Homo sapiens: one gene and its partner. The protein of the gene in region 1 purifies or fractionates together with the protein of each later gene. This does not show direct contact. Each region holds a gene or a part of one and is shown on either strand. Other genes may lie near its edges. The genes, in order: RNPEP and HAVCR2.

Region 1 (3,814 bases):
AACACAGTGCTAATTTGGAGCGAAAAGCACTTTCACGGTCGAAACGGCACAGTCTCTAGATGTCGTTATAACTAGGACCCTGCTGGAGCGAATAGTTACATGGGAAAGTAATGTTAAATGCTGGGGAAAGAGTTTGGGATGGAGAGAGGAGAAACTTGAGGTCTCTGGGAGTTGCTTAAACCAGTTGACCGTAACCTGGCCAGAGAATTCTGATAGTGTCTTCTCTCCTCCCAAACAGGTTTTGAGTTTGATCGATGGCTGAATACCCCCGGCTGGCCCCCGTACCTCCCTGATCTCTCCCCTGGGGACTCACTCATGAAGCCTGCTGAAGAGCTAGCCCAACTGTGGGCAGCCGAGGAGCTGGACATGAAGGCCATTGAAGCCGTGGCCATCTCTCCCTGGAAGACCTACCAGCTGGTCTACTTCCTGGATAAGATCCTCCAGAAATCCCCTCTCCCTCCTGGTAAGAAAAAATGGTGAACCAGGGCTCCTTGTGTGCACAGCTTTATGTCAGGGGCTAGAGGGAGGCTCACAAAAAGTAGTGATGCTTGCCCCTAGGGAACTGCCACGTACACTAGGGAGGCTGGCACTCCACAAGGAATGTGCCACCGGGAGGTTATGGGTTAGGGGACTGCCACGTACACTAGGGAGGCTGGCACTCCACAAGGAATGTGCCATCGGGAGGTTATGGGTTCTACTTACAAGCACCTCAAGGACAAAGTCACAAAGCCTGGCATTGCTCAAGTCCGAAGCTCCTGCAGGCGACTCTTGTAAGGCTTTTGTGTCTATTAAGTCATTTAATTCCCACAACTCCTCTGGGAAGTAGGCGGTGTGATGTTAATACCCAGGTGACAGAATGAACTTGAGGTACAAACAGTTCGCACAGAACCCAGTCATCCAGAGCTCTCAACCTCTAATGCTTTGTGGCTGCTCAGTCAACATAATATTCACCAAGGGGTTAAAAAAAAGTTAGAGCCAAGATGACTTTTAGCAGATGAGTGGTAGGAGAAAAAATGGGACAGATATTGGGGGAATATGTCTGCTTTAATCTTGCTCTGTCGACCAGGCTGGAGTGCCGTGGTGCTATTGGCTCACAGCAACCTCCACCTTCTGAGTTCAAGTGATTCTTGATTCTAGCACCTCAGCCTCCAAGTAGCTGGGATTACAGGCGTGCGCCACCACACCCGGCCAGTTTTGTTTGGTATTTTTAGTAGAGATGGGGTTTCGCCATATTGGCCAGGCTGGTCTCACATTCCTGACCTCAAGTGATCCGCCCACCTCAGCCTCCCAAAATTCTAGTATTACAGGTGTGACCCACCGTGACCAGCCACAAACCATTTCTTTCTCTTCTCCAGGGAATGTGAAAAAACTTGGAGACACATACCCAAGTATCTCAAATGCCCGGAATGCAGAGCTCCGGCTGCGATGGGGCCAAATCGTCCTTAAGAACGACCACCAGGAAGATTTCTGGAAAGTGAAGGAGTTCCTGCATAACCAGGTGGGTGACCCCTGCCTCGCTGTTCCCGAAAGCACACTGGGACCCACTCGGCCATATGTGAAGTAATCATGTGGGCAGGGCTCATCTAGGACTCATCTGAGGCACAGAGGGAGGGGCAAATGACCTGAGGACCCTACCACTCAGCCTCTTTACTAGTGTGGCTTTGAAGGCATTGCCCTAGGGACAAGAGGAGGCCTGCAGGCTTGCAGTGCTTTCTGCAATTCAGCTGGTGAGACCCCAGGGAAAAAAGCTGGCCAGAGCCAACGCAGAGGCGGGAAAGAGGGTGACAGTGTCATGTGGGAAACACAAGAGGGAAAGGGGCCAGAGGCGGAGCAAGAGGAACAAAGGCTTGGAGGATAGGTCCCTGCTGCCCTGTGACTTGGGCATGATCGGGACAGCAGCCAGACCCTCTGTCACTATGTGAAAGTTGCCCTGTTGGGGAAAGGCCCCGGGCTCTCAGGATGAACTGAATGTCATCAGATTCCGGAGCAGGGAGGGGCTGGACCGGAGACGAAGCATTGCTCTGCATAAAGTCAGGGCTGCCTGCCTGTTCGGGGATATTCTGAGCCCTTTGATGGCTTCCTCAAGGCTCTGGATTTTAGGAACTTGTGATGTCGCTGGCTTATATTTGTGTGAATTTGACCTGTGGGTTGACCTGTGGGTTTTCCTTTGCTTGACTGCAGCTGGACCGTATGCGGCTGTGAGCTTTATGTGCCGCAGCTGCTGATATCTGCTATTCACGTGGTGGCTCACCACCTACACCTTTCCAGAAGTCTGGAATCCCATTGTGTCCACCCAACTCATTCATTTTGTTGACTGTAGACGTCCCCATGTTAGTATGGATTGGGACGCGTATTGAGATCCATCTCCATGGATCTCTGGCGCCCAAGAAGATGCCTGAATTAGAGCACTTCTGATGAGAAGCTCCTCATTCCAGCTGTGATGCCCACATCCCTTTTAGCACCTAGCCATGGCTGCTGTTAGACTGGCACTGGGGGCAGCAGGGCTGGACAGATCCACCAGGCAAGCTTCTTAGGCATGTGTATGTGTGTTTCTTGCAGGGGAAGCAGAAGTATACACTTCCGCTGTACCACGCAATGATGGGTGGCAGTGAGGTGGCCCAGACCCTCGCCAAGGAGACTTTTGCATCCACCGCCTCCCAGCTCCACAGCAATGTTGTCAACTATGTCCAGCAGATCGTGGCACCCAAGGGCAGTTAGAGGCTCGTGTGCATGGCCCCTGCCTCTTCAGGCTCTCCAGGCTTTCAGAATAATTGTTTGTTCCCAAATTCCTGTTCCCTGATCAACTTCCTGGAGTTTATATCCCCTCAGGATAATCTATTCTCTAGCTTAGGTATCTGTGACTCTTGGGCCTCTGCTCTGGTGGGAACTTACTTCTCTATAGCCCACTGAGCCCCGAGACAGAGAACCTGCCCACAGCTCTCCCCGCTACAGGCTGCAGGCACTGCAGGGCAGCGGGTATTCTCCTCCCCACCTAAGTCTCTGGGAAGAAGTGGAGAGGACTGATGCTCTTCTTTTTTCTCTTTCTGTCCTTTTTCTTGCTGATTTTATGCAAAGGGCTGGCATTCTGATTGTTCTTTTTTCAGGTTTAATCCTTATTTTAATAAAGTTTTCAAGCAAAAATTAAGTTACGGATTGAGTGACTATTAAATTTCTTCCACCAGAGGTCCTCACTGTGTTTGTTCAGGAAAGGTCACTGGGGGAGGCCCAGAGAATGACAGTATTTTCCTGTCCTCAGGGAACAGCCAGGGTGAAGGAGGTGGGTGTCCTACACATGCATATGAAAAAAAATATGGCAAAATGGCACAGCTGGTGCAGGAAAATGAAAAAGGAATAGCATTCCAGTTCTCCGTGAAGCAGCTGAATTCTCTATCTGCAGCAGCATTCCCATTATCTTTTCCATCACTAAGAAAAAAAAATGGGCTGGGCACGGTGGCTCATGCCTGTAATCCCAGCACTTTGGGAGGCTGAGGCGAGAGGATCGCTTGAGCCCAGGAGTTTGAGACCACCCTGGCCAACATAGCAGGACTTCATCTCTACCAAAAAAAAAAAAAAAAAAAAAAAAAAGCCAGGCGTGGTGGCTCACGCCTGTAATCTCAACACTTTGGGAGGCTGAGGCAGGCAAATCACTTGAGGTCAGAAGTTTGAGACCAGCATGGCCAACATGGTGAAACCCCATCTCTACTGAAAAAAAAGATAGATGCAAAAATTAGCCAGGCATGGTGGCTCACACCTGTAGTTCCAGTTACTTGGGAGGCTGAAGCAGGAGAAACACTTGAACCTGGGAGGTGGAGGT
Region 2 (3,816 bases), on another chromosome or scaffold:
CTCCCCAGTGTCTGTGTCTCTGCTATAAAAAGAGAGAGAGAGAGAGAGAGAGGAAAAATAGCCAATAGTATAGTTAAGAACGTTTTCTTTTATCTAAGTTTTTAAAAAATCTTAATGATGCCTATAATCCTATTTGAAATGAATTCTACTCCGTACTTGTCACAATAATTAATGGAGAGACAGACAAAATTTACTGAACACCCAGGAATCAACTTTAGGATGGCCACATTTTTTCATCTAGATAATGAACCGTACTGTTTTATGAAATAGAGACTTCTGCCAGGAAGTCCTACATTAAATATGTGCTTTGTTTTTTTCACAGGACCCTAATGAGTTCTACAAACATCTAGCAATATTGATAAGACTCAGGCATTATTTATTTATTTATTTATTTAGACACAGAATTTCACTCTGTCACCCAGGCTGGAGTGCAGTGGCATAATCTCAGCTCACCGCAACCTCGGCCTCCCTGGTTCAAGCAATTCTCATCCCTCATCCTCCCAAGTAGCTGGGACTACATGCATGCACCACCACGCCCAGCTAATTTTTGTATTTTTAGTAGAGACGAGGCCATGTTGACCAGGCTGGTTGTGAACTCCTGACCTCAGGTGATCTGCCCACCTCAGCCTCCCAAAATGCTGGGATTACAGGTGTGAACGACCAGGCTTGGCCTCAGGCATTATATTCTAATTAGATTTTAAAAGACAACAAAAATTCATTTCCTTCTTTTTTGTTTTTTTGAGACAGTCTCACTCTGTTGCCCAGGCTGGAGTGCAGTGGCACAATCTCAACTCACTGCAACCTCCATGTTCTTTTTCTTTTTTTTCTTTTTGCGAGACAGAATCTCACTCTATCACCCAGGCTGGAGTGCAGTAGCATGATCTCTGCTCACTGCAACCTCCATCTCCTGAGTTCAAGCGATTCTCCTGCCTCAGCCTCCCTGGTAGCTGGGACTACAGGGGCACACCACCACACACAGCTAATTTTTGTATTTTTAGTAGAGACGGGGTTTCGCCATGTTGGCCAGGCTAGTCTCGAACTCCTGACCTCAAGTGATCCACCCGCCTCGGCCTCCCAAAGTGCTGGGATTACAGGCGTGAGCCACCGTGCCGTGCCCAGCCTCCATTTTCTTAAATAAGTTTTGCATTTACTCATGAGAAGGGAGACAGGGTTGCCAACAAATGAAAATAATCACTGTGGTCACAATGTAATAGGAGCCAGGCCTTGTGCTAAATAAACTCTTTCAGTGAAGAAGCTCATTTTAGAGATACTTAGAAGCACTTACTTTAGAACTACGCTTCTAAAGTAGAGACTGTTAGTCCCATTGCACAGATGAAGAAACTGAAAATTAGGGAAGTGAAGTGACTAACCCAAGGTCACATGACTTAGCAAATGACAAAATGGCCTTCCAATTTAGGTCTGCATAGCCTTAAATGCACATTCTTAATTATACTGCCTTCACCAGCCCTTACCTCAGTGCTGTCATTATGAAGAGGGTCACGTTGCCCAGCCACCCACTCACCATCTTTCCTTCCTGTTCATTTGTTTATTTCTTCATCTGCTGATCCATTCCATGAATATGCACTATGCCCTTACTCTAGGCACAGGGGACAGAGCAGGAAACAAGAGGGGCACAGGCCCTGACCTCATGAACACTGAATTCTAAAAATAAGTACATTGCCAGCTTTTGGAAAACTAAGCATGCTTACTCATTTTTATGGCTGAGTCAGAGATGTTGAAACTTCTTAAATGTCACTGTCACCTTCTGGAAGCCTTAATGTGTATAAAGGGTTTGACTAAATGCTGGTTTAGCAAACTATAGTTTAAATATTATAAAGGCATAGCCTCAGCCTAAAATTATTGAAGAAAAAAAGATTATGTTCCAATTACTTTTGCCCTAATTACCAGAAAAAAATTTAAAATATAAAAACCACAGGCCTGGTGCAGTGGCTCACACCTGTAATCCCAGCACTTTGGGAGGCCGAGGGCAGGCAGATCACGAGGTCAGGAGATCGAGACCATCCTGGCCAATATGGTGAAACCCCATCTCTACTAAAATACAAAAAATTAGCCGGGCGTGGTGGTGTACGCCTGTAGTCCCAGCTACTCAGGAGGCTGAGGCAGTGGAATCGCTTGAACCCAGGAGGTGGAGGTTGCAGTGAGCCGAGATCACACCATTGCACTCCAGCCTGGTGACAGAGCAAGACTCCATATCAAAAAAATAAAAAAAAGACCCTCATCAGTACAACTGCTAAGTAAACATGAATCTTAAGTGCACATAAGATTTTAAATGTAAATCCAGTTTCAGACTCCTTATAATTATTTTTCTTGATAAAAATGGTAAAACTAACTTTTTAAAAACTTCATTTTGCTATGAAAATGATCAGTAAAATCAAGCACTGTTGTGTCATTACAGCTTTTTTTCACACAGATTTGGCCACCAACCAAGATGGATGGGACAGTTGAAGGGAGTGGCAATGTTCTTTCTGGAGAAACCAAGATTTGCCTGGTGGGGCAGGTAGCAGCGGAGGTGAGATGTGATGGCCTTAACAGTGTATAAATTTAGTAGTTACCATCTATTTGGTACTTATTAGGTGCCAGACATGGTGCTTAGCACCATATACATACAATCTCATTTAATCCTCAACCACAATAAGTAGGTACTACTATTTTCCCCATTTTTCAGATGAAGATACTGAGTCTGAGAGAGCCACTTTGCCCAAGATCACACAGCTATTAATTGGGAAAGCTAGGATTTAAAGCAGATCTACTCTAGAGCTGAGGACTCACCTGTGACCCAGTCCTTACTCCTTCAGGTAGAAGACAAGTTGCATTTGTTCTGTGTTCAAATTCCAGGCCCTTGGATCTCTTACTTTTAAAGGCTCTACTCCATTTTTTTTTTTTTTTTTTCTGAGAAAGGGTCTCGCTCTGTTGCCCAGGTTTGGAGTACAGTGGCACCAACTCGGCTCAGTGAATCCTCAACCTCCTGAGTTCAAGCAATCTTCCTGCCTCAGCCCTGCCAAGTAGCTGGGACTACAGGCACATGCCACCATGCCCGGCTATTTTTTTTTTTTTTTTTTTTTTTGGGATGGAATCTCGCTCTGTTTTCCAGGCTTCAGGACAGTGGTGAGATCTCGGTTCACTCCTCCCAGGCTCAGACAATTCTCCTGCCTCAGCCTCCTGAGTAGCTGGAATTATAGGCATGCACCACCATGACCAGCTAATTTTTGTATTTTTAGTAGAGACAGGGGTTTCACCATCTTGGCCAGGCTGGCTTAAACTCCTGACCTCAGGTGATCCATCTGCCTTGGCCTCCCAAAGTGCTGGGATTACAGGTGTGAGCCACTGCACTCAGCCTAATTTTTTGTATTCTTAGTAGAGATGGGGTTTTGCCATGTTGCCCAGGCTGGTCTTGAACTCCTGAGCTCCAGTGATCTGCCTGCCTTGGCCTCCCATAGTGCTGGGATTACACATGTGAGCCACTGTGCCCAGCCCCATTTTTATATTAAATGCTCCCACATCCCACATTTAGAGTTGGTTTGCCAGCAGCCAATTTACATAATGTTACATATTATAGACAAACCATTAAATATTCATTCATTTCAATTTTTTATTTTATTTTCCTATTTAGGAGCTACTGACCTATTTTTGGTTGTTTCAATATTTTTTCTCAGTCAGGCCCTTGAGAAGCTCAGAGGTTCGAGGTATTATTCCTATATTCCCATTTTTGTTGCCCTAGAGGGAAGGAACTAACAAACAAAAACTAAAGGGAAGGCTGGGCGTGGTGGCTTACACCTGTAATCCCAGCGCTTTGGG

Evidence for each region.
Region 2: the proteins of RNPEP (region 1) and HAVCR2 purify together in Homo sapiens (co-immunoprecipitation; one large-scale study listed by IntAct). This does not show direct contact.

Annotation. Positions count from the first base shown.
Region 1 is NC_000001.11:202,002,999-202,006,812, forward strand, and holds the end of RNPEP (aminopeptidase B), read left to right. Parts: intron 1-125; exon of another isoform or gene 126-238; coding exon 239-463; intron 464-1,355; coding exon 1,356-1,498; intron 1,499-2,559; coding exon 2,560-2,718; 3' UTR 2,719-3,145; downstream 3,146-3,814. UniProt on the Homo sapiens protein: Exopeptidase which selectively removes arginine and/or lysine residues from the N-terminus of several peptide substrates including Arg(0)-Leu-enkephalin, Arg(0)-Met-enkephalin and Arg(-1)-Lys(0)-somatostatin-14.
Region 2 is NC_000005.10:157,098,880-157,102,695, forward strand, and holds part of HAVCR2 (hepatitis A virus cellular receptor 2 precursor), read right to left. Parts: intron 23-3,816; coding exon 1-22. UniProt on the Homo sapiens protein: Cell surface receptor implicated in modulating innate and adaptive immune responses. Generally accepted to have an inhibiting function.